Linked DNA regions of Homo sapiens. The protein of the gene in region 1 purifies or fractionates together with the protein of each later gene. This does not show direct contact. Each region holds a gene or a part of one and is shown on either strand. Other genes may lie near its edges.

Evidence for each region.
Region 2: the proteins of ZNF816 (region 1) and LRP4 purify together in Homo sapiens (affinity purification with mass spectrometry; 2 studies listed by BioGRID and IntAct, with this or other methods). This does not show direct contact.
Region 3: the proteins of ZNF816 (region 1) and ZC3H18 purify together in Homo sapiens (affinity purification with mass spectrometry; 2 studies listed by BioGRID and IntAct, with this or other methods). This does not show direct contact.
Region 4: the proteins of ZNF816 (region 1) and TOPORS purify together in Homo sapiens (affinity purification with mass spectrometry; 2 studies listed by BioGRID and IntAct, with this or other methods). This does not show direct contact.

The regions. Positions count from the first base shown.
Region 1 is NC_000019.10:52,958,510-52,968,396, forward strand, and holds the start of ZNF816 (zinc finger protein 816), read right to left. Parts: upstream 4,373-9,887; 5' UTR 4,218-4,372; exon of another isoform or gene 4,208-4,217; intron 1,669-4,207; exon of another isoform or gene 1,518-1,668; intron 1-1,517. UniProt on the Homo sapiens protein: May be involved in transcriptional regulation.
Region 2 is NC_000011.10:46,855,278-46,861,174, forward strand, and holds the end of LRP4 (low-density lipoprotein receptor-related protein 4 precursor), read right to left. Parts: intron 5,714-5,897; coding exon of another isoform or gene 5,669-5,713; exon of another isoform or gene 5,652-5,668; intron 4,039-5,651; coding exon 3,706-4,038; 3' UTR 1,440-3,705; downstream 1-1,439. UniProt on the Homo sapiens protein: Mediates SOST-dependent inhibition of bone formation. Functions as a specific facilitator of SOST-mediated inhibition of Wnt signaling.
Region 3 is NC_000016.10:88,593,192-88,602,754, reverse strand, and holds part of ZC3H18 (zinc finger CCCH domain-containing protein 18), read right to left. Parts: intron 4,578-9,563; coding exon 4,429-4,577; intron 4,136-4,428; coding exon 4,043-4,135; intron 2,965-4,042; coding exon 2,807-2,964; intron 1-2,806.
Region 4 is NC_000009.12:32,538,968-32,544,073, forward strand, and holds the end of TOPORS (E3 ubiquitin-protein ligase Topors), read right to left. Parts: coding exon 2,420-5,106; 3' UTR 1,577-2,419; downstream 1-1,576. UniProt on the Homo sapiens protein: Functions as an E3 ubiquitin-protein ligase and as an E3 SUMO1-protein ligase. Probable tumor suppressor involved in cell growth, cell proliferation and apoptosis that regulates p53/TP53 stability through ubiquitin-dependent degradation.

The DNA.
Region 1 (9,887 bases):
GTTTCCCACCAGAGACCTAGGCTGCGCATTGCTCCAGTACGTTGATGACCTTCTGTTAGGACACCCCATGGCAGTTGAGTGTGCCAAGGGAAAGGATGCCCTACTCTGGCCCTTGGAGGACTATAGGTATAAGTTGTCCAAGAAGAAAGCCCAGATCTGCTGACAGCAGGTACATTACCTAGGATTTACTATCCAACAGGGGGAGCGCAGCCTGGGATCAGAAGGAAAGCAGGCTTTTTGCAACCTACTGAAGCCTAAGACCAGAAAGCAGGTGAAAGAATTCTTAGGTGCTGTGAGGTTCTGCAGACCGTGGATCCCAAACTTTGTAGTACTGGCCAAGCCTCTGTACGGAGTCACAAAGGGGCAGGACCAGGAACCTTTTGAACGGAGATCCCAACAACAGCAAGCCTTTCATGAGTTAAAAGAAAATCTTATGTCAGCCCCAGCCCTGGGGTTACCTGACCTGACAAAGCCTTTTACGCTGTATGTTTCTGAGAGAGAAAATACGGCAGTTAGGGTTTTGATCCAAACTGTGGGGCCCTGGCCGAGGCCAGTGGCCTGCCTCTCTAAGAAACTAAATGGGGATTCTAAAGGTTAGCCCTCATGTTTGAGGGCCTTGGCAGCAACTGCCCTGCTGGCAGAAGAAGCAGATAAACTAACTCTTAGGCAAAACCTGAACATAAAGGCCCCCCATGCTGTGGTGACTTTAATGAATACCAAAAGACATCATTGGCTAATGAATGCTAGACTAAACAAGTACCAAAGCTTGCTCTGTGAAAATCCCCACATAACCATTGAAGTTTGTAACACCCTGAACCCCGCCACCTTACTCTTGGTATCAGACAGCCCTGTTGAGCATAACTGTGTAGAGGTGTTGGACTCAGTTTACTTTAGCAGGCTTGACCTTTGAGACCAGCCTTGGGCATCAGTAGACTGGGAGCTATAAGTGGACAGGAGCAGCTTCAACAGCCCACAAGGAGAGAGATGTGCAGGATATGCGGTAGTAACCCTGGACACTGCCATTGATGCCAGATCGTTGTCCCAGGGCACTTCAGCCCAGAAAGCCGAGCTCATTGCTTTAATTCAGGCCTTAGAACTCAGTGAAGGTAAGACTGAAAATATTTACACTGACTCTCGGTATGCCTTTTTAACCCTTCAAGTGCATAAAGCATTATATAAAGAAAAGGGCCTGTTGAACTCTGGAGAAAAAGACATAAAATATCAGCAAGAAATCTTGCAATTATTAGAAGCAGCATAGAAACCCCACAATGTGGCAGTCATGCACTGCAGAGGACACCAGCGAGCTTCCACCTCGGTTGCCTTAGGGAACTCCAGAGCTGACTCAGAAGCTCGAAAAGCAACATCCACACCCTACTGGGCATCAGTCACAGCCCCCTTGCTCCCTCAAGCACCTGACCTTGTACCTACTTATTCTAAAGAAGAAAAAGACTTTCTCCAGGCAGAGGGAAGACAGGTGATGGAAGAAGGAAGGATCCGGTCACCAAATAGGACAGTACCTGTGCCACAGCTGCTAGGAGCCACAGTTGTACTGGAGGTGCATGAAACCACCCATCTAGGTCAGGAGTCACTTGAACAGTTGTTAGGCTGGTACTTCTACAGCTCACAATTGTCAGCCCTCGCCAAAACCGTGGCACAGCGGTGTGTTACCTGCCGACAGCACAATGCGAGGCAGGGTTCAGCCATTCTGCCCGGCATACAAGCTTATGAAGCAGCCCCCTTTGAAGATCTCCAGGTGGACTTCACAGAAATGCCAAAGTGTAGAAGTAACAAGTATTTACTAGTTCTCGTGTGTACCTACTCTAGGTAGGTGGAGGCTTATCCCACACGAACTGAGAAAGCTCATGTGCTTCTTCGAGATCTTATTCCTAGATTTGGACGGCCCTTACGAATCAGCTCGGATAACGGGCTGGAGTTTGTGGCTGACTTAGTACAGACGACAGCAAAGGTATTAAAGATCACGTGGAAACTGCATGCTGCCTTCTGACCTCAGAGTTCTGGAAAGGTGGAGTGAATGAATCGGATTATCAAAAATAGCTTAAGGCCTTAGGAAAAATTACACAAATGATTTCAGCCCAGGTAAATGAGAGATGCCCCATTAGCTTATTCTCCCCAGTTCACTCTTTCTCCCCGGGTGATTGAGTGTGGATCAAGGACTGGAACGTAGCCCCTGTGTGCCCCCACTGGAAAGTACCCCAGACCGTCATCCTGACCACTCCCACCGCTGTGAAGGTAGAAGGAATCCCGGCCTGGATCCACCACAGCCATATAAAACCTGCAGCGCCTGAAACCTGGGAGGCAAGGCCAAGCCCAGATAACCCCTGCAAAGTGACCCTGAAGAAGACGACAAGCCCTGCTCCAGTCACACCCGGAAGCTGACTGGTCCTACGCACAGTGGAAGCATGAGGAAGCTCATCGTGGGACTCATTCTTCTTAAATTTTAGACTTGTACAGTAAAGGCTTCAACTGACCTTCCTCAAACTAAGGACTGTTCCCAGTGTATTCATCAGGTCACTGAGATAGGACAGCAAATTAAAACAATCTTTCTGTTCTATAGTTATTATGAATGTACAGGCACGTTAAAAGGATCTTATTTGTATAATTCCACTCAATACAAGGTACGTAGCCCAGGAAATGACAAACCTACTATGGGTTATAACCCATCTAAGCCTCCTGCAACCACCGTTTTTCAAATAAGATTAAGAACTGGTCCTTTCCTAGGTGACACAAGTAAAATAATAACTAGAACAGAAGAAAAAAGAATCCCCAAACAAGAAACTTTAAATTTGATGCTTGTGCAGCCATTAATAGTAACAAGCTCAGATTAAGATGTGGCTCTCTTAACTAAGAAAGGAGCTGCACAGTAGAAAATAAATGTTTGTCATGAGGCAGAGGTCTGTGAAAATTTGCCTGTTGCCCATGTGTTATTTAGGCTACTTAGAAAAATGACAAAAAAGACCCGGTTCACTTTCAAAAAAAAGAAGCCAACCCCTCCTGTGCTAGCAGTCACTGTAACCCACTAGAACTAATAATCACTAATTCCCTAGACCCCCGTTAGAGAAAAAGAGAAGGTGTAATCCTGACGGTCAATAGGACAAGGGTAACCCCCCAAGTTGCCATTTTAGTCCGAGGGGAGGTCCCCAGGCCCTTTCCCAAACCAGTGTTTCAAGCCTTTTATAATGAGCTAAATCTGCCAGCACCAGAGCTTCCAAAAAAGACAAGGAACTTGTTTCTCCAGTTAACGGAAAATGTAGCTCATTCCCTCAATGTTGCTTCTTGTTATGTACGCGGAGGAACTACTGTTGGAGACCGATGGCCTCAGGAAGCCCGAGAGTTGGTGCCCACTGATCCAGTTCCTCACACAATTCCAGCTCAGAAGGCCCAAACTAGCAACTTCTAGGTCCTAAAAACCTCAGTTATTAGACAATACTATGTAGCTAAGGAAAGAAAAAACTTCAGCAACCCCGTAAGAAAGCTCAATTGTCTAGGACAGAAGTTGTATACAACAGCACAACAAGGACAGTCACTTGGTGAGGCTTAAACCACACTGAAAAGAACTCATTACGTAAATTTTCTAAATTACAGACTGCCTAGGCTCATCCAGAATTTCATTGAGACTGGACGGCCCCCGCTGGACTATACTAGTCCAGGCACAGAGACTATACTATACTATACTAGTCCAGGCACAGGCTATACTAGTCTGTAGGCACAGAGACCCATCTCCAACAACAAAGAAGAAAAGTGAAAATCTGGGTCCTGGCTCTGGGAATCTAAGGCCAATTAATGTGAACTTTGCAAAACTAGACCAAAAGGAATAACCCCATCTCCCCACCCGTAGTAACAAAGGATCAAAGGGTACTCTCCCTGTAGCCCTCCCACTTCCACCACGTCTCAGATGGAAAGGGAAAGAGCCCAGGAGTGGCCACAAAGCACCGGCCACCCTGGGGCTGCGGGGCTGCAACGCTGCGCTCCAGGGGCCGACTAGAGCGAGGCTGGGAAGCGCTCTTGCCCAGGGCAAGAATCCAGCTCCGGGTGAGGACTTGAAACAGCGCGAGGCGGGAGGACGCGTCAGAAAGGGTTTTGCTAAGGAAAGTTTCGCGACAGGAGGTGTCTGCACGGCCCCACTGCAGAAAGACCGGGGACGGGACCAGCCTCAGGGCAACTTTAAACTCAAAAGGAAGCGACTCACGGACTCTCACCCGGACGTTTCAATTTGCTCTGGGTTGAGAAAAGAGGGGCCGGAACCTGCAGGTCTGTGGGGACCCCACGTCCCCTATATAGCAGCACCAGACAACTAGGAAACGCACACGCCGCCGTGCAACTTTCAGTCCACGCCATCCGCTTCCGGGTCTGTGCCAATCGGCGCAGGACAGAAGCGGGACCTGGGCCAGATCCCCGAGAGGTGGGCGGGGCCTGGGCGAGGCCGGGGCGGGGTGCAAAGGACAAGGGGCCCGGCGCGGAAGAGAAGAGTCTTGGGCTGGGAGGAGTCCGCGGGGGCGGGAAAGGGGCGGGGCCTGAGCTTTTCTCCATCTCGCTCTCCGCGCCTCTGTTTTCAAGGTTTTAGAGGTGAAACCCGCCAGTGAGGCTGGAGCAGCTCAGCAGTCAGGGAAATAGTACCTCCCTGAGAAGTCGCCGTGTGGCGGTAATTGGATCCGGGAAAGTTCCTTGCTATTGAAATTTATTTTAGCAATTTAATTCCAAAGCCTGGAAGTTGTCTACGGCAGGAATGCAAACTAGAATGCGAAATGCAAAGCCTTGCCTGAGCGAAAGGTACAATTTCATGCTGACGGTCCACAGAACAGAATAGAAATCCTCTCCCTTTCAATTCTCCATTCACTGGAGTGGGAGAGTCCACACTGTGCTCAGCTCCTGAGACTTCCCTAGGGCCACCGTCTGGGGTGCGGAGCAGAGGAGTGTGCTTAAACACAGCAGGGATGCGGGCGGGGTGGCAGGAGTCTGGGGTCCCCGCTACTCAGGAAGCAGGGGCGAGAGGATCGCTGAGCCTGGAGTTCCAGGCCAGCCTGGGCGACAAAGTAAGACCCTCTATCCCAGAGCTCCCTCCTCCGTCTCAATAAACAAAAAAGTGATTTAAAAAAAGCACTGACATTGTAACAGTGCATATAAGTTGCCCAGTTGTTTCTTACGTTTATTATTTCATGCTGCACTTAAAATGAGTTATTTTTGTCGTGGAAAAGAATCAAACTGTAAAATATCTTAAGAGATTTATTCTAAGCTAAATATGAATGACCCTCAGGAGGTCCTGAGAACATGTGTCCAAGGTGATGGGGAACAGCTTGTTCTTAGACATTTTAGGGAGGCATTAGACATCAATCAAATACATTTAAGAAATACGCTGCTTTGGTTCAGAAAGGAGGGGCAACTCAAAGCGGGGACTTCTGGGCTACAGGTAAATTGAAACATTTTCTGATTGACAATTGGTTGAGTTTGTCTAAATACCTGGGATCAACGGAGAGGAAATGTTCACGTTAAGGTAAAAGATTGTGGAGACCAATGTTGTTTTCAAGTCTTCTATTGGCTGCCCTTAGAGATAATAGATGATAAGTGTTTTCTATTCAGACCTTTAAACAGTGCGAGATTCTTACTTAATCTCTTCAGGATTGGTAGGGCCTAGAAGAAAAAGATCTAGCTATGTTAACAGAGATTCTTTACAAATGCACATGTACCCCTCACAAAGAACAGCTTTGCAGGACCATTTCAAAATATGGCACAGAAACATGTTTTGGGGTAAAATATTTTGACTTTCTTCTTTGTCACGTTATTCCAGAGTCAGACTGGAAAGTAAGACAGGATATATAGGACTAAATAAAACCCATCTGATGAGTATTTATGGTTTGTAGGGCATGACTCCCCAGACCCTTTAGATAGGAATTTGGGCAAGAGAAAAAAATTAGACCTTGGTCCTCATTCTCAAATTCTTTTTTTAAAAAATAATTCCTAAGTGTATTGTAATATCAAATTCACTTTACGTGCCTTCTGAAAATAAGTAGAAAATGTACTTTTTATCTTCAAGTTGTAATTTTTTTTTCCCTAGAAACAGGACCTAGTTCTGACACCCAGGATGGAATGCAGTGGTGGGAACACTGCCCACTGCAACCTCAACCTCTGGGGCTCAAGCAATCCTCCCGTCTCACCTCCCAACTAGCTGGGGCCACAGGCCCTCACCACCAGGCCTGGCTAATTTTTTAATATTTTGTAGAGTCGGGGGTCCACTATGATGCTTAGGCTGGCCTTGAACTCCTGTACTCAAACAATCCTCCCACCTTAGCTTCCCAAAGTGTTGGGATTAAAGGCGAGCTACCACACCCATCCAATTGTAATCTATTTTGGGTGTTTTCTTTGTTGTTCTCTCCTAAGTGTTCTATCAGGTGTGAACAACAAAGGCTGTAAAATAGGCAGTCTTCAAACATTGGGATTTATTTTCATATAGAGAATAATTATGAGATATTACTAAGGATACATTGCAGTCAGGTTATTCTGTTTTACGTGGGCCCTGAAGAAAATATAACTAAATTACAAAATTGGCTGGGTGTGATGGCTCACACCTGTAATCCCAGCACTTTGGCAGGCCTAGGCGAATGGATCACCCTGAGGTCAGGAGTTTGAGATCAGCCTGGCCAACACAGCGAAACCCCATCTGTACTAAAAATACAAAAATTAGCTGGGCATGGTGGCATGCGCCTGTAATCTCAGCTACTCAAGAGGTTGAGGCAGGAGAATTGCTTGAGCCCAGGCAGCAGAGGTTGCAGTGAGCTGACATCTCACCATTGCACTCCAGCCTGGGCAACAGAGTGAGACTGCATCTCAAAAAAAGAAAAAAAAAATTATAAACTTTTACATCACCGCATTTCTGCATGCAATAATTTTATGGCAATATCTGTAAGTTAACATGTACTATGAACTATATTTTTCACTCACATCCCTAGTTATCGAAGGTTTCATTTATCAAATACTAGTAATTAGCTAAAACATAATTATGTTTAGGAAGAAATTAGCATATCTAAAATATTAGCAAGTTTAAAAAAGCATAATGTGGCCAGGGATGGTGGCTCGTGCATGTAATTCCAGCATGATGGGAGACCGAAGCAGAAAGATAGCTAGTGGCCAAAAGTTGGAGACCAGCCCAGGCACATGGTGAAACCTCATCTTTATATTTTAAATATTTATGTATCTATGTATTCATTTATTCATCTTTGAGATGGAGTTTCATTCTCATTGCTTAGGCTGGAGTGAAATGGTGTGGTCTCGGCTCACTACAACCTCTGTCTCCTGGGTTCACGTGACTCTCCTGCCTCAGCCTCCCGAGTAGCAGGTATTACAGGCATATGCCACCATGCCTGACTAATTTTCTATTTTTACTAGAGACGGGGTACCTCCATGTTAGTCAGGCTGGTCTCGAACTCCCGACCTCAGGCGATCCACCCACCGCAGCCTCCCAAAGTGCTGGGATTAGAGGCCTGAGCCACCATACCCAGCCTCTATGTAGCTTTGTAAAAAATCCTTGTAGCTGTCTCTTTTAGGAATAAAATGGGAGGCAGGTTTGTCTGACACAGTTCCCAGCCTGACTTTTCTCTTTGGCTTAGTAATTTTTAAGCTTCTTTCACAACCTTCTGACAGACATAATGCTTTGACACACTGATATTGGTTTATATAGATTTTCCAAAACAGTAAAGTCCAAGGGTCTATCCTGAACTGGGTTAGCGGAGGCGAGAAGATTCCCAGAAGACTCCTGATCTCAAGCAATCCTCCCACCTCAGCCTCCGAATGTGTGAGGACCACAAGTGTGATCCACTGAACCCAGTGGAGTCTCCATCTCAAAAAAAACCAAAAAGCAATACGGGAATTAAGGTACTCTATGGAATTACATCATTTGACTTTTTTTTGAAATGAAAAGCCTCACATATTTATTACTGAACCCAGCCAACCAACATGTTCATAACAGATTCAGAGAGAAAAAATATATTCCCAATAAAACATGTCCAACTCTCCAGATAATGGTGACATTTTCTGCTTGATATGGTAACGTGATTGTAATGCTCAGACAGCATAAAAATGTGTGCCATCTCATGTACAATTCCTTATAGACACGGATTGGTTCTTCTCCAATGTCTCCTTTTAAAGTTGTACCTGATTTTATTACCAGTTTTCATCTGAATCCACTGGGGAATGGAACAATTTTGCTTTTTTTCTTGGCCAGGAATTGCTTAATCCTGATAGTCTTATGAGAAGATCTGGTGAGAAGCAGAGTCAAGTACACACCATGATGGTGGAGAAAGGAAGAGAAGGGGCTTGACATCTTTTTTTTTTTTTTTTTTTTTTTTTTTTTGAGAGAAAGTTTCACTCTTGTTGCCCAGGCTGGAGTGCAATGGCACTATCGGTTCACTGCAACTTCCACCTCCTGGGTTCAAGCGATTCTCCCACCTCAGCCTCCCAAGGAGCTGGGATTACAGGTGTCTGCGACCATACCTAGCTAATTTTTGTATTTTTAATAGAGATGGCATTTCACCATGTTAACCAGCCTGTTCTCAACCTCCTGACTATTGTTTCTGCTGTTAGCTGTCAGTCCTCTTCATCACGGCACAAACAAGATTATTGTTTTTCTCTGAAACTGATGTGGATGGTCTGCCTGCTGCTCCACGTGTAACCTTCAACATTGTCTTCTCCCAACTCAAAATTAGTTATCCATTTACAAACTGTTGATTTCTTTTGGGCATCGTCCCCATAACCTTTTCATAAAGCATCAATGATATCATAATTCATCTACCCAAACTTTACCATAAGTATTCTTTTTTTGAGACATGCTGGAGTGCAGTGGCAAGATCACAGCTCACTGCAGCCTCGACCTCCCAGGCTCATGCCATCCTCATGCTACAGACTCCACAGTAGCTGGCCCTGCAGTCAGGTGCCACCCTGCCCAGTGAATTTCTGTATTTTTTGTATAGAAGGGGTTTTCACCATGTTGCCCAGGCTGGTCCTGAATGCCTGGGCTCACGTGACCCACCTGTCTTGGCCTCTGAAATTACTGGAATTACAGACCTGAGACACTGCAACTGTTCTCATCATAAATTTTATGTTTCTTCTTGTTTCAATTTTAGCAGAATTTGTATTCCTTTGATACAGTCTCTTTTCAAACTCATGTCTTATCCTTCTCAGTGCCTCAAACTAGAGCCTGTTCAGACATGTTATAACAGATTTGTATCAGTTTATTTTGGTGCAAAAACTGTGAAATTCATGCACAATTTTTCCATAATATGTATTTTTCCATGAGCTTCTTGAAGACCACTTGTACTAGAAAACTGTATTCAAGAGGATATATAAAAGGATTGTAGATATGCAAGTGCCATTTACTTCTGGCATGCAAGGATGGTTCAACATATTCAAGCAAATCAATGTGATATACCACTTGAACAGAATGAAAGATGAAAACCACATCATCTCAACAGATGGAGAAAAATCATTTCACAAAATTCAGCATCTGATCATCATAGAAATCTTAAACAAAATAGATGGAGAAGGAAATTTACCTCACCAATAGAAAGACCATTGATGAAATGACCAATGTGGAGATAACCAAGCAGGGAAAATAGAATCCTTTTCCCGTAGGATCTCACATGATGCAAGAACGTTCTCACTTTTTCTATTCAATAAATACTGGAAGTCCTAGCCAGAGCAATGAACTAGCAAAAGAAATGAAATGCCTCAAAATCAGAAAAAGTAAAATTATATTTTTTGTAGATGACATGATCTTCTGTGTAGAAAATCACAAAGAGTCAACCAAAATACTACTGTGACTAATAAACACATCAGTAGATTTGCACAATACAATATCAGCACCAAAAATTCGTTGAATT
Region 2 (5,897 bases), on another chromosome or scaffold:
TATTTTGAGTGAGTTTGCAAAAATATGGCCAGTTTGTTAGAACTTGACCCACCATCTGCTCACTTATCAGTTTCAGGGTTTTTTTGTTTTGTTTTTTTAGTGACAAGGTTTTGCTCTGTTACCCAGGATGGAATGCAGTGGCGTGATCATAGCTCACTGTAACCTTGAACTCCTGGGCTCAAGCAATCCTCCTGCCTCAGCCTCCCAAGCAGCTGGGACTACAGGCATGAGCTACCACACCTGACTAATATTTTTAAATTTTTTTGTAGAGATATGGTCCTGTCATGTTGCCCAGGCTGATCGTGAACTCCAGGCCTCAAGCAATACTCCTTACTTCTGTCTTGGCCTCCCAAAGTGGTGAGATTACTTTGGTGTAGCCACTGTGCCTGACCCTAGTTTCAGATTTTATACCAGAGAACTAGACAAGGAATTCCCAACCTTTGTTTTATCCCAAGATGTCCTCCTTTTCTGCTTTTTTTTTCCCTCCCAAAGAGAACAGTGGGGGTTGGAGGGATGGTTATCCTTGGGCTATTCTACTTGTTTTTGTTCTGGCACACCTACTCCTTACTACAGTTAGAAAAATTATACACTGTAGCTTATACTCAGATCTCTGGTCACTTAAATACAAGAAGCTTCAGTCTTTCTTACTTTCATTTTTTGTCTTTTTTTGGGATGGTGGTGGTAATGGTGTTGCTAGACTCTAAGCTCTGTAAGATTATGTCTTTGTTTAGGCATGGGCAGTGCCTAGCCCATAGCAGATGAATGAATGAATGAATGAATGAATGAATGGGGATATTATCCTATAGATGGTGTGTGGTTTAGAAAATCAACTATTGAGACTTGACATGAAATTCTACATCGGGCGTTGAGATTAACATGATTCCCAGTTTTCACTGAGGGATATCACATCCAGAGAACCTGAGAAGGGATCCCTAGCTCCTTGTTCTAGCCTTGAGAAGTAGTGGATGAGCTATGAAAAGACAGCTTTTAAAAATAAATGAAATCCTAGTGATAATTTGATCCACTCTCAGACTAACTATGAAAGTTGACTAAGATCAAACAGAGCTAGTGGCAGATCTGGGACTGGAATTAGCCCTCCATGTCCCCAGCTCCAGTACTTTTCTTACTACATGAGATAGTCTTGCCAGTGACCATCACTGCAAGGCAAAGTAAAGTTCTGTAACAAAGACCTAGAACAGAAATAGAAGATACATGGTATACATGCCATGACATTTCCTTCCAGTGCACAGAAGAGATGTCACTAGCCATATGACATTCTTCCCATTGGGTGCGAATAGGCCCTCAGGCAGCCACTACCAACCAGTCAGAGTCAGCACTCAAGAGGAAACCCATCTACCATTCCTCTTCCAGAGGAAATAAAGGTTTCATCAGTCAAGGAACTCTGGCCTCGACCTGTCTTCTCCAGATGAGCTGAAAACTCCAGCAGGAACCTCACACTCTTTATTGCTCTTCACTGTGCCCACATCCACAAAGGACTTAAAAGTGATGTCTGTAAGCAGGTTTTCCACAGCATGGGTCTGCCAGACAGAGCAGGTGCAGGATTAGTCATGACTCCAAGCCAGGCAAGGTGATTAAGAAAAGCTAAATTTATATTAAATTATCATAAAGTCCTAAAATACTGAACATAGTGGTTAAATAACTCCAGAAAGTCCAATCTCTCCAGTGAGTAACGTTAAAACCATTACACATGAGCATGGGAGAATCGCTTCCATTAGTTTAGGACAGAGAGATTTTGCTTTTTACAGAGTAAATCAGTGCTCAAATAGATACTTCCTCAAATATGTCCTTTCTACATTCTGAACAGCCCAAGTGCAATAAGATCCTTCCCCCTTTCCAATCAAGAAAATGCCACTTTTCTACTTGCTCTTCCTCCCCAGACGTGAGTCTAAGGACCCAAAGTGCTCACTCCTTTACTGCTTGTTAAGTGTAATGTGGGGAGGCTCAGAACTGGGGCTGACGCTACTGAGAGCAAGGCTAAGGGCCTGGTATCTCTCTCTAGCAGTCTTAGAACTGACTAGAAAAGAATTGATCTTGTCCTTTTTCACTTTGGTAGCTGATTTCTCAATACCAGTAACCACAGGAGAAGTTTCAACTCAGGAAACTTCCCCTAGAAATTCTCCCCTCCATTCCCAGCCCCTGTTGTTCTCTCCTGCCACTTCTAATTCCTGGGGGAGAAGAGGTCTGGGTCTGCCATGGGCTAGGAGGGCCTCATCAGTGGTGCTCTCTACCTTCCTACTCCTTACCCACCTCTTTGTATTTTTATTTATTCAGCCCTCCCACCACAGGACTTTGGAGATTGCTGGTGCCACAAGGCTTGGTCAGAAAAAGCAAATTAGGCAAAAAAACAAACAAAAAAACCCCACGAAGAACAGCTAGGGAGACGTTTTAGGGCAAAAATAAGTCTCAATTTCCCTGATACCAGGCTGAGACACGTGCCCTTTGTGTGAATGAGCATGAACCAAGTGATGGCATCCCACATGGAAACTAAGCCCCTTAGCTGAGGGGACAGCTGGAAGAGGAACATCACCACCCCGTAGCCACAGGCTTGCTGTCCACTAACTTAGATCCCTGAGCACTTGAGAAAGAACATAGGAAGTTCAACAGGAAGTTTGACCCTCATGGATACTTCTCTTTAGGCCCTGGGTTTCCCAAGTCTCCAACCTGATCGTTCTTTCTGACCATTTATGACAACTTCTGGTTTTTCTTTGAAAGCTTGTTTCTAGGTCTCTTCCCCAGAATCCCAGGACATGAGGGAGAGAGGGGTCAGGAGGTATACCATATTTGGTCTAGGCAGAGCTTCTTAGACTTTTCAGAGACTCAGCCCCCAAGGCCTAACATTCACTCAAGCCACTGGCTCACAACCTGGTTAATTTGAGCAAAGACTTAGGAAAGGTACTGGCCAGTGGTGGCACCAGGAGGGAATTCCTATTAGCCAGTAGCCTTGTGATAGGGGACCCAGTTATCTGAATGTAGAAACAGCTCCAGACATTCTAGGAGGAGGAAGAACAGCCTGAGCCACCCCCATCTCACCAGTATCTGCTGCTGAAAAGGCAGTGTCTCTTAGGGCAAGAATAATGTCCACTGCCAGCAATGGACCAGACACCCAGATCCAACTACCCCCCAAAGCTTTTTCATGTTACTAACACACTTGAGGCTGGAGGTTTCCCAGATGCCCATACCTGCTGGGCTGATTCTTCCTTCTTCTCTCAGCCTCTATCCTTCATCCCTGTCTTTACCCACACCCCCATGTCCCAGCCCCTGATGGGCAAGTTCTCTCAGAGAAGCAGTCATGCTGGCTGTGATGGGGCAGAGCGCAGTCCTGGGTCATCAGCTGCATCAGCACTGAGAAGCAGGCACTGAGGGTACTGGGGAAAGGGGAGGTGGAGCTCTACGCTGGTGAGGAATCACGAATAAGCAGTTTCAGGGGGCCCAGGATGGAGTACAAGATGTGAGGTTCATGGTAAAATCCAGGTCTAAATTCTCGTGATGTGCCATCATTTCTTGTGCACAGGTAGTTATGGACTCACGTGGTAAACAGCTCCGGTGAAGGCTTAGGAACAGTTATGGGGTGGGAGGAGGAGGAGGACAAGCACACAGAAGCGGGGCCTGCGGTGTAAGCGAGCACAAGGACTAGACGTCCATAAAGGAGAAGGAACAGGCAGGCAGGGAAGAGAATGTGGGCATTTAGACCTGGCTCTCTGAGGAGAGCTTGCGTTCATGTTTCCAGCCCGTGTCTGGCAGAGAGCCTCGTCTTTCTGGAGTGGCTGCAGTATGGACGCTGCTACACTCAGACTGCTCTTCCTGTAACAGCTGCTCCGTCTCTGTGTCATCCAGGGAGCCAGAGCTGGCCTGGATGGACACCGTGTCTGTCTTCATGCATACATGATCCCGGAGGAGGCCCCCCCGTGAGCTTCGCAGTTGCTTGAGGTCATCCCACTCAGCATCATCCCCAGACAGGAGGCAGATTCCCTCTACGATCTTGATCTTCTCCTTGGTGTAGTTATGGTCAGGCCCTCCCTAGGGTGGAGAGTGGGCAGATATGGTCAGTCAGTTGGCCTTCTACAAAGGATCCCATGGTAAACTGAAAAAGGAAGTGGATGGGGTAAGAGTAGGAGTGAAGCGCACAAAAATCCCACAAACAAATGGGGAAATGTGATTAAGACAAGTGTATGAGGCCTAGCCTAAAAGGGGAGAGGCAGCTGTGATAATTATTACCATTACCATACAGGAGGAGGGAAAACCATGGCTTCCGGTCCTGCAGCAGCCACTCACTGGCTTTGTCACCTTAGGCAAATTATTTCACATTTCTAAAACTCAGTCTCTTAAGACTCTGCAGTGTGAGGAGAGTAACAGTATCCACACCTCACAACCAACTGCTGTCACCTTAAATGAGATGATACATGGAATGCAGTTATCAGGGAGCTTGACACAAGATGCACTATAACATGTTAGCTATGTTACATTGTTACTGTGGTTTATTAATGGGACATCATGCTGATATAAATCATCAAAAGCAATTGGCAAGAGCAATTAAATGTACATTTATTCAGGATTTTAAGCTACTTCGGGTGCTAGTTTGTATCTCTTTTTTCTAATTTTGTTAAGGAGAAAACTTGGGAGGTAAGACAGGGGACTCTAGAAAATCCTCTTATCTGGCCGGGCGTGGTGGCTTACACCTGTAATCCCAGCACTTTGGGAGGCCCAGGCGGGCAGATCACTTGAGTTCAGGAGTTCGAGACTAGCCTGGCCAACATGGTGAAACCCCATCTCTACTAAAAATACAAAAATCAGCTGGGTTTGGTGGCGGGTGCCTGTAATCCCAGCTATTTGGGAGGCTGAGGCAGGAGAATCCCTTGAACTCCGGAGGCTGAGGTTACAGTGAGCCAAGATCATGCCACTGCACTCCAGCCTGGGTGACAGAGCAAGATTCCATTAAAAAAAAAAAAAGAAAGAAAGAAAGAAAAAAAACTAAAAAAAAGGAAATCTTCTTATCTGGGTCCTAAACGTCAATATAGTGGGGTCCTGCAACTTATAACCTTTTTTGGGAGGTTACTCTCGCTCTGCTGCCATGAGTCCTGGGACCATTCCCAAGCAAAACCTGGGACTCTTCCAGGCACAGCCTGGAGTTCTGCTCGGGCCTCTCCCTTTATGGCTTCTTCAAAGAGCAGCCTCACTCCTGGCTGCTGGGGTATACCAACCGACATACCACCACTGCTAGAAGAAAATGGATCATCTTGGGTTCTGTCCCTGGGATAGTATTCCTGCCAAGAGTTCTGCAACTGTGGCTGTGGCTCTATTTTTGTAACAATTCAATTCCACAGATATTTACTGAGCCCCTATGTTAAGCAGAAGACTGTGCTAGGTGCTTTGATGATTATACAATATAAAACATGGTCCCTGCCCTCTGAGAGTGACAGTCCCCTCAGCCATGCAGAGTGGGACATAGCACACAAGCAAACACACAGATGTCTGTTCACCCAGCACACCCTCCAAGATGAAATTAGTATAAGATGCAGACCACTCAATGTCTTAATTAAGAGACACGCTGGGTAAGTTAGGGAGAGGTGGGGGATATGGCACTTGCAATTTGGGAAACACCACTCCCTCTACAAACACACAGCAACAGGTACCTGAAATCAAGAGGAAATCAGAAGAGAAAAGGTGAAAGACTATCAGAGGGGTGAAAGAGCTGCTGAGGAAGAAACACACAACAGAAGAAAGAGGTCACACTATTTTCATTGCTATCCTGTGGCCTTCATTGTGGTTCTTTTCTGGAGCATCAGATACTCCAGGAACCCAAGAATCTTCAAGAGTCTTTCTCTCAAAGATATTGGGGAGGGGTCTACCATTCCTAGAACTACAAGCCATCCCTGCAC
Region 3 (9,563 bases), on another chromosome or scaffold:
GATTGCTTGAGTCCAGGAGTTGGAGACCAGCCTGAGCAACATAGCAAGACCTCATCTCAAAAAACCAACAGAAAACTCTCGACATTAGGAAATAAAATAACATGGTATCTTCAGAGAATTTGTGTCCCTGGAATTACTTACAATCAATGGTTCTCAAACTTTAATATGCATCAGAATTACCTGGAGGGCTTGTTAAAAACAAACCACTGGCCTGGGCTCTCCCTGGAGTTTCAGACTCAGTCTTCCTGGGGTCGAGCTAAGAATCTGACCTCTCACATGCTGCTGGGGGCAGATGTGGCTGAGGTTAAGGCACCACACCAGGAGGTCACAGCTATCAATCCAGGTTGCACTCTCCTCACCTGTGAGGCAGGGACATGGCCCTGACCTCGGCCTGCTGTGACCCAAAACAGGTCAGGAGCACTGGATGCGAAGCCTGTCATGCAGCAGGATTGCAACACATAAGTGCTGCTGGCTTGGCCTCTTCTGTGCCATTAAGGCCCTGGAGCCTGACCGCCAACTGGGCTGCCAGCCACCCTCCTGCACACCCTACAAGCTGCGACCTGCTTTGCCAGCTGTTCCAGGTGAGGCCCTGCCTGCAGCGGGCACAGGTAGGACCGAGAAGGCTGGGTGACAAGAGGACCCACTCCTGCCAACAGCACGCACCAGGACATCTGCACTTGCAGTGCAGCTCCTTCCTTCCCTCCGGGTCTCAGCAGCCCAGCTGTACTGGCTCCCTCTACTCACTGTTTTCCTCTGTAGCAACCTACCTGGTGGACCCACCCTTCCCTTAGATGCTCTTTGTGACAATCATAGGGGGGTCTCCACCCTCCTGGCAGAACCCTGACAGTTCTTTCCACTGTGTCTATCAGAAACAGCCAGGGCACCTCGCCACTGTGACACATGCACCCTGACCCTGTTCCCAGAGGTCCTGACTCACCAGGTCTCGGGGGAGGCATGGCACAAAAGGCCTCAGGTTAACTGTAACATACACAGAGGCTACTCTATAAAAACAAACAAAATACAAACATACAGAAATACCTGGCTTTCAGACACCAGTGAAAACCTTTCAGCCCTGACTGCCGAGACTTTAACATTTGGGGGTCCTGCAGTGTAGATACCGGCTCCTGGGAGAGAAGCTAGGGAGCCAGGAGCCAGCTTCTGTCACCTGGTGCCAGGATGGGAGACACCTGTTTCTGTAACCAACACTGATAGGTAAAACACACACAGAGGGCACTCCAAAAAACCTCAGAGACCTGCCGAACCACTTCCAAGCAGGCAGTTTTCCGGTCCCTGCTCCAGCCAGGGAAACTGGAAATAGAGTGTCAAGGATCACGCCCAGGTTCTAAAATCCATCCTTCCCCACACATATTTATAGAGACCTCTGTGCACACGAGCTCTGGGGAAGGAAAGACGATATCCACATCTAACAAAAAAACACAAAGGCCTCCAGGGCTTCAGGAGACACCCCTGGTGATCCTGCAGAGTTCTGACTCAAATGCTCCTTTCTGTGATCTGACATTCCACACAAAACTTAATTAGAAAATGTACATGTTAACCAAGTCTTTAAATACCTATCCCTTTAACCTCTAAGCTCTCACCTGCTGGGGCAGGTGTGGGCCACTGGGGCTTCCTCCCCCAACTTCCGCAGGCGGAAAGCCCAGGGTAGCCTGCTCGCGGCAAGAAGGCCTTGAGAAGGGCCTTGCAGGGCCAAGTCGACAGGACCAAATCCTGGAGTGCAAGCCCTGCACGCCTTCCTTTTTTGAGCACCGTTTATTGTCACTCCAGATAGAAATCATAGTGATTATGATTCCCTAATAGCAACCAGAAATGTACAGGGCTGCTAAAGCCTCAGCATGATGGAGTGCCAATTCAGATCTGCCCGAATTATAATCCAGTTCCCTGCCCTGAACCTCACCGTGCCATCCACAGGCAGAGGAAAACAGCACTTTATATGCCATGCAATCCCCCAAGATCTGACTTCCACCCTTCGACCCAGGCACTTCTTCTGTTAAGACAGGATTTTTAAAGACCAGGCATAAAGGGGCTGGGTGCAGTGGTTCACGCCTGTAGTCCCAGCACTCTGGGAGGCAGGCGTGGGTGGATCACTTGAGGTCAGGAGTTCGAGACCATCCTGGCCAACATGGTGAAATCCATCTCTACTAAAAACACAAAACTGAGTTGGGTGTGGTAGCAGACACCTGTAGTTCCAGCTACTCAGGAGGCTGAAGCAGGAGAATCACTTCAACCCAGGGAGGCGGAGGTTGCAGTGAGCCAAGATTGCGCAACTGCACTCCAGCTTGGGCGACAGAGCAAGACTCTGCCTCGGGAAAAAAAACCAAAAAACAAAAACCAGCCATCAATGCCCTGGAGGAGAAGCAGTGAAGGCAGAACAGCCCTGACAGCGAAGAGGCCGCAGCTGTTGTGTTCCTGGCTTGTGGCAACCTCCACACGTTTCCTGGCTCCTGGGTAATGTGGGCAGGGGTGAGGAGCCAGAAACACAGACTTGTGGGGCTCTAGAGGCCTCAAGGACAGCAGCGAAAACTCTCAGAGCTCAGGAACCACAACGGTGTGAGTGCTGCCAGTCAAGGCCCATGGCACAGAGCCCTAACGCTTCCTTCCTAGAAGCAAAAAACTGAGATGAGCTCTGAGAACCGTGCCTGAATGCTCTCAGGAACGTCACTGAGACTCCAGTGAGTGGGGCTGGGTCTCAGCCGAGCGCACCCTGGGGCCCTGCACATGGCTGCTCTCTCCGGAGCGTGGCCGCATGCAGGAAGGAAACGGAGGGGCAGGCAGGGCCATTCCTTACACTGTGTCTCTGACATCTCTCGGGATCCGAGAATTCCAATCTCGAAAAACTTCATTTTCTTTGTCAAATTCCCGTTCGTCTTCGCCAATGGTCACCGTAAACCTTTTCTCTTCAAAATCAGGCTCCTGTTCTTTTCGAATAGTTGCTTTTTTTAAAACCTACCATTGTAAGAAGAAAGAAGTCAACATGGAACAGAATACCGGGCGTCGCTGTTAGGAAACACAAAGGGAGCCGTCCCACCCGACCGCAGCAGCCCTGCAGGAGCAGGAGCTGCACGCTGCAAGTGCTCAAGGGGTGAGGGGCGGACACAGCACAGTTGTCCTTCTGGGGAGGGCAGTCTGTGCCCGTCTCTGCACAAACAGCTGCCCCCGGCCTCCGTGTGCCCACATGAGGTGTTCATCACTTCCTTCAACTACCCTTGGAACTAGATCCAGGGTTCAGTCACTCAGTGACAAGCAGCAGGTGGAGTGGCTGGAGTCTCAGAGGGAAGGAAGTGACATGCCGAGGGAGTGAGAAGGAACATCTTGTCCGTCATTTCCCAGCAGGGAGGCTGACCAGGAAAATGAGGAAGTGGGGCTGGGTGCCAGCAGAGTGGTCCCCAGAGCTGAAGCTCACACACTGGGGCCAACGTGGGCCTAGAGGGAGGAAGTGTGCAGTGATAGGACCAGAAAGCTCCAAGTTTTCTCCAGGAAGAGCAGACACTGAGTCTCAGGAGTGTGGGGTGCAGATCCTGGGGGTGCGGCTCGGGCAGCCTCGCCAGGCTTTCTGTGAGTGGCTGGAGACTGCACCCTGTGCTCCTGGGCAGTGCCAGCTGGGGTGTGGCCCAGTGCTGATCCAGCCCCATGAAGACAGTGGGTATGCCCTGGACTGAACTCCCTGGCCTACTGGGCTGCTGCCTGAGACAGTTAGATATAACTCTCCATCCTTCCGGGCCTGGTGGCGCATGCCTGTAATCCCAGCTACTTGGGAGGCCGAGCAGGAGAATCACATGAACCTGGGAGGCGGAGGCTGCAGTGAGTCGAGTTTGGGCCATTGCACTCCAGCCTGGGCAACAAGAGTGAAACTCTGTCTCCAAAAAAATAAATAAATAAAAAATAAAGAAAGACACCACAGAAACAGACGCCTAACTTCAGAGATTTCTGGGGCTCTCTCTGGACCGAGGAAATCCCAGTTTTGTCAAGAACCACTCCTGTAATAGCATCTTTCTTGTCGGGATTTCTGCTGAATTGTGTTTACCTCCTTTGCATGCCGGAGTCCTCGTTCCCAGGCACTCTCTGTTGGGGGCTCTGGAGGGGGTGGAGGCAAAATTTCATCAACTACCGGCCCACCCTATTGAAAAACGAGAAGGGAGAAGGTGAGAAAGTAAAACTTTCAAGTGTACAGAGAAACCAGACAGTAAAAACATCAACTACAACACAAGCCGGCCGTGTGTGGCCGCTCTCCTTCCACCAAGCCTCACTCCGTCCTCGGAAAGCCGAGGCCTGCTTCCACTCGGGACGACAGAAGCAGCCGAAAGGGGGCACTGAGCCTGTGCTAAGGCACAGTGACTTGTCTTAAGCTTGAGATTCAGACACAGCTCAGTTGGCTGATGTGCTAACAATGAAAGAAGAGGCATCACGCACCCAAGGGTTGGCGGGCATCAGCGGGTGAGGTCCGAGAGGCGGGGCACCATTAGGCGGGAAGGGGTCGGCTTTGGTGATTAGGGAGTAGTTCCCCTTGTCGTTCACTCCAGGGTGTATAAACCTACAATTCATTCCCCAGGTACAGTTCCCTATGGAAACAAAAGTGAGATCAGAAAGGGTCCACAAGAGCCTAATTGCACAAGGGCAGCTGCTGGGGTGGGGGGTGGGAGGGGGCAGAGGCCATGTTTACCCAGGCCTGATGGCGAGCCACACAGTAGTGGGAACTGAACGGGGAGGTGGGCGGGATGAGCCTGGAGAGGCTGAGCCAGACAGCTGCACCTGCCCAGGCACGGCAGTTCCCCAGAGGCTGCCAGGCACCTCGGTCAGAGTGACCACAAAGTCACTTTGTGGAGAGTTCACGCGTATCAACTGTCTGAGTATTAATTTTCCCCTTAAACCAGAAAAGCCCCAGAGCTTTGCTTCCAGCCCTGGCCCAGGCTCATCTAGGTACAACTGGATGTTAATTGTATTTGTGCCGAAACAGACATCAATGAGAAGCATTAACAATGATCAGAAGCCTGCAGGTGTGCTCAGGGTCCCCTTGGCCACCTCTGTACGTCTGCATTTCTCTCACAGAGAAAACTCTCACAGGGCATTTCAAGATATTTCTGGAACTGAAACGGGCTTTTACACTTTGCTCATAAATAACAATCACAAACCTTCATCTTCAACAGAATATCCGGGTTAGTAAAGGAGACCTCGACTTTCAAGTGTAGAATATAAGACATCTAAGTGTCTAACTCAATTACTGAGTGAATCACTTTTTTAAAATGTACTTTTTTGGGAATAGATAATGTGTACACATTGTTTAAAACCAAATATGGCATATAGTATCTAAGCGGTTTAAAAATTTTTTTCAATGGGTTAACATGCAGTTAGATTTTAAATCATTTAAAATTTTAACCTTAAACATCAGGAACACTTAAGCCTGCATTAAAACCAACTCAATACAACATAATAACAATATCGATCCAAATTAAACACGAAAGAAAACTTAAAACTGCTTCTCTGGAAATGCAAAAATGACAAGTAATTTTTAAAATTTCTAAAAGCATTTCAGAGATCACACATAAGTCAAACGAAGTTGGGAGGCCAGGCGTGGTGGCTCACGACGTCAAGAGATCAAGACCATCCTGGCTAACATGGTGAAACCCCGTCTCTACTAAAAAATACAAAAAATTAGCCGGACGTGGTGGCAGGTGCCTGTAGTCCCAGCTACTTGGGAGGCTGAAGCAGGAGAATGGCGTGAACCCAGGAGGTGGAGCTTGCAGTGAGCCGAGATCGTGCCACTGCACTCCAGCCTGGGCAACAGAGCGAGTCTCTCTCAAAAACAACAACAAAAAACAAAAGAGGTTGGGAAATGTTATTCTATAGGGGGTTCAAAAATCCAGAGCCTCAGAGAGATTTAAAGAAAAACTGACTATGCAGTCATCCATCTGAGACTCAACACACTACAGAGCTCTTCATGGTTTGCCTCTGAAAATACTCATGCAGTATTCAAAATCACGTGTGTAACTAAACAAGTAACAAAAGCTCATTGTAAAAAATGTCCAAGTACAGAAAAGTGCTGACAATAGAAACCACAGCTTTTCTGTACTCCTTTTCCTTTTTTTTTCAGATGGAGTCTCACTCTGACTGAGTGAGACAGTCCCAGGCTGGAGTGCAATGATGCAATCTCGGCTCACTGCAACCTCCACCTCCTGGGTGTCAGTGATTCTCCTGCCTCAGCCTCCTGAGTAGCTGGGATTACAGGCGGGTACCACCATGCCAGGCTAATTTTTGTATTTTTAGTAGAGACGGGACTTCACCAACTTGGTCAGGCTGGTCTCGAACTCCTGACCTTGTGATCTGCCAGCCTCGGCCTCCCAAAGTGCTGGGATTACAGGCGTGAACCACCACACTCGGCCTCTGTACTTCTTTTTCATCTAAAATATGTATCTGGGTGGTGGCTAAATGTTATCGTTCTTTTCTGTATTTATGAAAATTTTTAGGACATCACCTACGAACCTACTATCAAAAAAGATCCTTTCTCACTGATATTGGCATGGGGAGAAAAGAGGAACAAGGCAGAAGAGAACAAACCAGTGAGCGCCAAAGAGCAAGCTGAGAAGGCGAGCGTGGGGCTGCCACTAGAGACCAGACACTAGTGGGTGACAGTGTTCAGCTCTCGGGAGCCACCTGCCCGGGGGTGCTGAGCGCTGTCCTGCCCCTGGCCAGAGTAAAGGGGAAGATGGCTCTGGAAAGCAGCACAGTTGGTCTGCACGTCTAGCTGGGACACACTTCCAGCAGACGTCAGGCAGAAAGAACACCATTGTCCCATCTATCTTTTTAAAATGTGAACTTTTATCTGTGTAGGAACACACCCAACTGTCGGGAATGTGGGAAGGGGCTTTAGATTTTATTTTCTTGCCTTCTGCCAGCCCATATTACTTTCTTTCCTTTTTTTAATTTTTTTTTTTTTGAGATGGAGTCTCGCTCTGTTGCCCAGGCTGGAGTGCAGTGGAGCGACCTAGGCTCATTGCAACCTCTGCCTCACAGTTCAAGCAACTCTCCTGCCTCAGCCTCCCGAGTAGCTGGGATTACAGGTGTGCACCACCAAGCCCGGCTAATTTTTGTATTTTTAGTAGTGACAGGGTTTCGCCATGTTAGCCAGGCTGGTCTCAAACTCCTGAAGTCAGGTGATCCGCCCACCTCGGCCTCCCAAAGAGCTGGGATTACAGGTGTCAGCTACCGTCCCCAGCCTTACTTTCATAATTTAAAAAGCAATTTGTTAAAAAAAAAAAAAAAAAAAAGAAAGAAAGAAATTATCCAGAAAATAGAAGCAACAATAAAGATCTTCTGGTTTACAAATGGGACTTCAAACCCAAAATTTATGTGGATTGTGATTCTAACAGTATAAAGATAGTTCTGCGGATACTGTGTACACAGACATGGCCTCAGGCCAGAAGAGGACAAGGAGGGACAGAGGCCGCTGGAGCGGGGCGGAGGCGGCCCCTCCACTGCTGAAATGTCTAAGTACTATTTCTGGCTTCAAGACAGGATGATGGTCTTTTTCTTAACTGGAATGTCGGCACAGCAGCAACTGGTTTTTCTTTTGTTTTGTTTTTGTTTTTTTGAGATGGAGTTTTGTTCTTGTTGCCCAGGCTGGAGTGCAATGGCACAATCTCAGCTCACTGCAACCTCCGCCTCCCAGGTTCAAGTGATTCTCCTGCCTCAGCCTCCCGAGTAGCTGGAATTACAGGCATGCACCACCACGCCTGGCTAATTTTGTATTTTTAGTAGAAACGAGGTTTCTCCATGTTGGTCAGGCTAGTCTTGAGCTTGCGACCTCAGGTGATCCGCCCGCCTCGGCCTCCCAAAGTGCTGGGATTACAGGCATGAACCACCACGCCCAGCCAACTGTTTTATTCTCTTATTAATCTTTACGCTTGTGTAAACACTGTATTATTTTATATATATGAAATATTTCATAATCAAATGAAATACTTGTAAATAAAAAATACCCACCCACTCTAAAAGGTACACTGTGAAGTTGACCACCTATCCCATGCCTCCAGGGCCATTCCCAGAGGCAGTTATCAATATACTGGGGCTCCATCCATCAATCATTGCCCCCTTTTACCTGAGCATATATATTATGCTCTGTGCTGAACCTTGCTTTTTTTCACTAAACAATGTAACTACAGAAAGGGAACCTGCATGCTCAGTAGCAACCAACCCAAACTGGATCAGGGAAACAGACAGGAAACAGATAGGAAACATGGAAAATCCGGAAACTAAACACAGAGGTGGCAGGAACTGAGGCTCAGCTCATGCTCCAGCACAGCCCACACATGAAGTATCTTTAAATGTCTCTTCTGATTTTGAATACAGTAAATATCAATTCCCTGTGTTTACTTGGTTTATATGTGTCATTTCTATTGATACGTACGATATTAGAAATTAAGAGACACTTAAAGATATCTCATTATTTAACAATAACAAGATATCCAATATATAGTAACAAATATTTATGAAACTGTTTTTAAAATATTTGGTGAGAGGAATAGCATTCTTTGCCTTTTTGCGAATCTCTTGAATGCTGACCCTGGAAAACCCCTGGCCTCCCATCTGCATGCGATCGACCATGAAGGGCCGCTGTGGCTCAAGCAGGAGAGGACATTACAGCCCCAGGAAGAGATGCAGCTAGAGAGGGAGGGGCATCTAAAAGCCTTTTCAGTGTGCTCAGAGCTTCTCCCTGACACCGCACTCAGCAAGGGAAGGCTCCTTACAGCGAGCTGCAATTGAACCCTATCACCACACTTTTCCAACTTGGTTCTTCTGAAATCCATTGGTCTATCTTGAACTTTGAATGGGTCTTTTACCCAGGCATGATTCTGTGACATCCTGCAATGGTCACCTGAGAAAGTCCTGACACACTGAGAAGCTGGTGAGCACACAAAAGTCCAATTTTCAACTGAAAGCTCCAATTTTAATACTGCTAACACTGTCCGTTGTTCTCCTTGAAGCCACAGGCTCACTTTGTTCCTGCCAGGACCCGGATCTGCATTCCCTGGCATGTCTGCCAGTCTTTCTCATCAATGTGTGCTCCACGGAGAGCGCACAGGGTCAGCCGCAGCTCCAGCCTTGCACGTGCTGCCCCTTGAGGCCGCTGGACTTGGGTGCCGGCAGGGGCTCTACCCACGCTGCCACTCCACCACGCTGAGTACTGAGACACACACAGAAGCTCTGCTTTCTGGCTTTCCACAGTTTCAGTTACCTGCGTCTGAAAATACTAAATCGAAAATTCCAAAAATAATTCCTAAGTTTTAAATGATGTTCTGTGCTGAGCAGCGTGATGAAATCTTGTGCCGACCTCCTCTGCCCCACCTGGGACACGAATCATCCCTTTGTCCAGCAGATGCAAGCTGTCCACGACGCTAACTGCCCACTAGTCACTTAGCAGCCCTCTTGGCCAACAACCGTTGGGGGTACGGCGGTGCTGTGCTCACTGTGGCTCAGTGACCCAGGATCACTGGGGGCAGGTGACCTTCCTTCTGACGCATTGGCAGGAGGTCAAGGGGGGCCCAATGCTA
Region 4 (5,106 bases), on another chromosome or scaffold:
CCAACACGGTGAGACCCCGTCTCTACTAAAAATACAAAAACTAGCCGGGCGTGGTGGTGGGCACCTGTAATCCCAGCTACTCGGGAAGCTGGGATAGGATAATCACTTGAACCCAGGAGGTGGAGCTTGCGTTGCAGTGAGCCAAGACTGTGCCACTGTACTCCAGCCTGGGCGACAGAGTGAGACTGTCTCAAGAGAAAAAAAAATCTTTTCAGTGCTGCATCACAAATGGATGGGGGAAAGGAGCGGGTGCAGACCAACAATGAATGCAAGCTGACCCATTATGGTAGCACAGATGAAAGATCTTGGCTACCCAGATTGGATGTGAATGCTACAGACACAATAGAAATATCATAAAAATCATTAGTGCCAAGGATTTGGCAGCTGAATGAGGGGGGCTGAAGGACAGGGACGAATCAAGACTTGGCAATTTTTGGCTTGAACACCCAAAAGGATGATGTGCCATGTATTGTTTTCATTAAATGTTTAAGGGAAAACATGATGTGAAATTACTATGTGGAATAGTGTTGTTTTTAATACTTAAGAAAAATTACATTGTTAACTACAAAGTAATTTCAAACTTAATGTGTATTTCTTGATCAACTATAGTCTTCCCACAATTTCTCAATGTCTGAGCTTACTTAAAAATTGCCAACATCAATTTTAGATTCTTCTTAGACAATTTTCTACTGTCCTTAGAATAACGGATTCTAAACATGGCCTACCAAGACTGTTCCCACCCTGTCCTTTGTCTAATCCTGCTTTTAGTTCTTGGAATATGCTAGGCTCTTCATCTGCCTTTGGATCCTTTGCCAACAGCAATTCCTCCCCCGTTAATGCTGGCTTGCTTTCTGGATTCAACTATTACGTCCAATCATGATTAGATCCCCATTCACTTGTAAGGGAATTATACTTTCTCCTCAGAGAATGTATGATAGTTTATAATGTTATACTTACATAAATATTTGTCTTAACAGTCCATAAGCACCATCAAGGCAGGGAGCATAACTGCTTTGCTCTATTGATAAAACAGAACCGCCAGGTGCAGTGGCTCATGCCTGTAATCCCAGCACTTTGGGAGGCTGAGGCGGGCGGATCACGGTCAGGGGTTTGAGACCAGTCTGGCCAACATAGTGAAACCCCGCCTCTACTAAAAACACAAAAATTAACCGGACATGGTGGCGCGTGCCTGTAGTCCCAGCTACTCCGGAGGCTGAGGCAGGAGAATCGCTTGAACCCGGGAGGCAGAGGTTGTGGTGAAGTGAGATTGCACCACTGAACTCCAGCCTAGGCAACAGAGCCAGACTCCAACTCAAAAAAAAAAACAACAACAACAACAAAAAAAAAAACCCCAAAACTTAGTGCAGAACCTGCCACATAGTAGGCACTGCAATTTCTACTGAATAAAGAATGAATACAGTAGCAAGGCAAAGGCAAACTGAAGGCTGAATTAAGATTTAACTCAAGCTCCACTGTTCAGTGGCAATCCTACATCAGCATAGATGTAATTTTATCATCCCTAAAACAAGATAAAACATAACCACTTTATATGAAAGAACTACCAATGTAAAAGAAGTATGACAAGGGTTTTTCATGTTTATTTAGCAAGTTAAATGCTGTTTTTACTGATGATAGAAAGCAAATAAGATACTCCTCAAAATCAAAGAAAATAATTAAAACTATAAAGTATTTGTTCACCTGAAGTTCAGTATTTATGACATAATTATGCCCTTAGCTACTTTCAAGATTTTAACTTTACTAAAATAAACTTTAAAAAAAAATACTGCATAGGAAAATGTCTGATTCTTGTTTTAAAGTGTTACTGTTTTATTTTTTTTCTTTTGTTGAATACACATTTGTTTTACTGGCAGTCCAGATAAACAAGTATATAAAGGAAATAGTAAATTTTTATTTTGGCAGAAGATAAACTGTGCAGATTAAAATGCCTCAATTTAACCTGAAGAAATGGTTTTGAATCATATAAATTTTTAAGAAGAAAAATAAAGACTGTCCAAAGGGATTCTCCTAGCTTATAACACATTTCCAGAATAACTCTCAAAAAAAAAAAATTCAAAAATACTCATTGACTACCTTAAAAATATGTCAATACCGTATGGCTTTATGAAATAACTTCTAAAATTTATATAATTTTTCTTATTTAAAAAGGACCCCAAGTTTTAAATAAGCTGCTAGCAGTATCATTTTCTTCACTTAAAAGTGCATATCTTTGAGGGTGGGACATACATTTTGAACAAATAATGATTTTTACAAATTAACACCAAAAAAAAAATCATTTAAAATATTGTAAGGAGGAAGAGAGTTTTCACCAAATGTCATCTTTAAATAGACTGCAGTAGACGACATTCTTCCTTTTTCCTTTTTATAACATCATAATTCTCAATGAAATGCTTTGGCAGTTTTAAGACATATCACAGTCTCTACCAAGACATACTGACATTAATGATGTCCGTGGCGATGGCAATTGCCTTGATGGCTCAGTTTGAAGAGACACAATGTTACTGGGCTGGTTCTCCAAATCAGAAACAAAGGTGCTCTCTTCTCTTACATCGAGAGTTTGTTCAACTGAAGCTGCCAGAGGTGGAATATTATCTACAGTTTTGTTGGCATTATTCAAGTTGTTACTAAGTGTGGCAATATCACATTCCTTGTCCAGCACACCAAATTCAGCTTCTATTGTAACTACATCTTTAGTTTCAAATGGTTCCAAGGAAGGAGCCAAAAACTCATTTTGTAGAGGGTCTTGAGGACCACTATTGTCACATTCTGTATCCTCCTTTACTTCAGAATCCTTATCACTGTCACTGTCAATGGTAATTACAACTGGGGAACGTGAAGCATTATCTCCATGGTGTTTCTTATGCTTCTTCTTATGTTTCTTCTTTTTCTTTTTATGGTGTTTAGTTGTATCAGTAGCTTTTCCTTCATAAACTATCTCTACACTTAGGCTCCGGGTCTTCCTTTTTCTCCTTTTGTGTTTTGTCTCTCTGTCTGATGATCGGCTGTCTGAAAAGGTATCACTCTCATTTTTGTAGTTTCCATCCAATTTTGATGAAGATTTTTGGTAATGACTGTCCTTTGCTTTAGAAGCAAATTCACGAGATGGCTGAGCCACTTCGTTAGTACCCTCCAAATGCCGTGTTTTGTATTTTCGTTTCCCTCCAGGCTTTTCATTTCTCACCCGGTCAGTCCCGGTAGATGCAGTCCTTGATCTGTTACTAGACAGGCTCCTTGATCTGTGCCTTTCATAGTAGTAATACTTCCTCTCACTGTGATTATTTTTTTTCCTAGCATTTGTTCTTTCAGAAAAGGACTGAACTCTAAATTCTGGACTTGAAGACTGTCTAGAATAATGAGCTCTGGACAGAGTCCTCCTCCTGTAAGATGATTCGTACCCATCCCTGTCCTTGTTTCTACTGTAATAAGTATACTCCCATTTGTATCTGCTTCCATAATTATTTCTTAAATAATAACGATCTCTATTTCTGCTCCGTGATCTTCTTTTACCATGATCACTGCTACGAGACCTTGATCTGCTTGTGCTTTCACTACTTAGAGACAGAGTTTGGCTTCTTCTGGACCAACTGCTATCTCTAGTTCTTGATCTCTTTTTGTCTCTTCTCCCTCTAGGTCTGCTACTTTCCCTGCTTCTGGATCGTTTACTTTTCATTCTTTTCTTCCCATGATGCTTTCTATGATTCTTCTGATCATGCCCACTTCTACTCTGAGAACGTGAATCTGAACTTCTTGATCTTCCCCTCTTTCTGTGTCTATGGTTATATGGAGAATATACTCTGTCTCCTCTTACAGATGAGTTCAGGTTTCTGGGAGATGACAATGATGTAGATCGTTTCTCTTCCTTCTTTGATTTGATTCTTGTACTAGAATCACAATGACCTTTATTTATTTGTTCATCCTTTCCAAGGACAGAGTGTGGAGATGAGCATCTACTAACATCGCTATCACCAGAACTGTAAGATTGCTCCTGTTCTTGTGTCTTCACTGTCTCCATTTTCTCATAAGAACCTAAGTCCTCAGAATCAGAGGACAGTTCAACAAGTTCTGGGGTCCTCTCAGCTAGTGGTTTAACAAACCCAACAATGACACAATTATCTGAAGAATCATCACTGTCATTATTTAGGTCGTCATTGGTTTGTACTCCTTGTATCTGAGACGTGGCTCCTCCTGTGACAAGTTCTTCATCTGAACTGTCAGAAGTATTTAAAAGAGAAGACATAGTAACGTGTACCTGCTCTGAGCTTGAGTAAGATGGTCCTGGAGTTTCATCATCCCATGGTGCCTGACTAACAGTGGCTACATTAATATCCAGCTCTTGGGTCTCAGCCTCATCTGGAGATATTGTTATGACTGAAGAATCAGAATGGCTGCCTTCTTCGTATGAAGGAGCAGGGCAATCATAATTGGCATGCTGGTCAAAGGCTGCCATGTTAAAAGGAGATCGGGCAAAACTGATAAATTCATGTATAAAATGCTCAGTTCGATTAAGTAAAAATGGTCTTAAATCAGACACAAATGCCTGACTCTCCAAGTCATAGCGAGTAACATTACTCATGATAATATGCTGGACAATATTCACTAAAGATCCATGAGCTCCAAAAAGAACTGTAAGTTCACGTTTTAACCAGGGGACTAATCTGTGAAGGCAAGCTGGATTTCTACGGAAAAATTCAGCTGAAATATCCCTGTAGCGGCCACCATCTTCAATATTTCTAACTCGAGCACCAGCACGATAAAGAGTTCGTCTAAAATTAATAATATCTTGTTCTTGAATTTTCCGCAAAGATCTTTCATCTGCCGTAGTTGGCCTCCTTACTGCAATCTGTCTCATAAACTGAGGAATTTCAACATCTCTAGGTCTTGTTGAAATGCCTAACCCTTCAAACAGTACTCCACTATCCGGTGGAGTTGTTGTTCTTCTGTTCACAGGACCACTAGGTGAATACACAGAAGCATTTCGTTCCCTTGTCAGAGTTGTACGGTAGCGAAATCGTCGATCAGGGGTGACAAAAGAACCATTATACGAAGGCCTTAGGACATACTCCTTGAAGTCATCTTCTGCCCTCACAG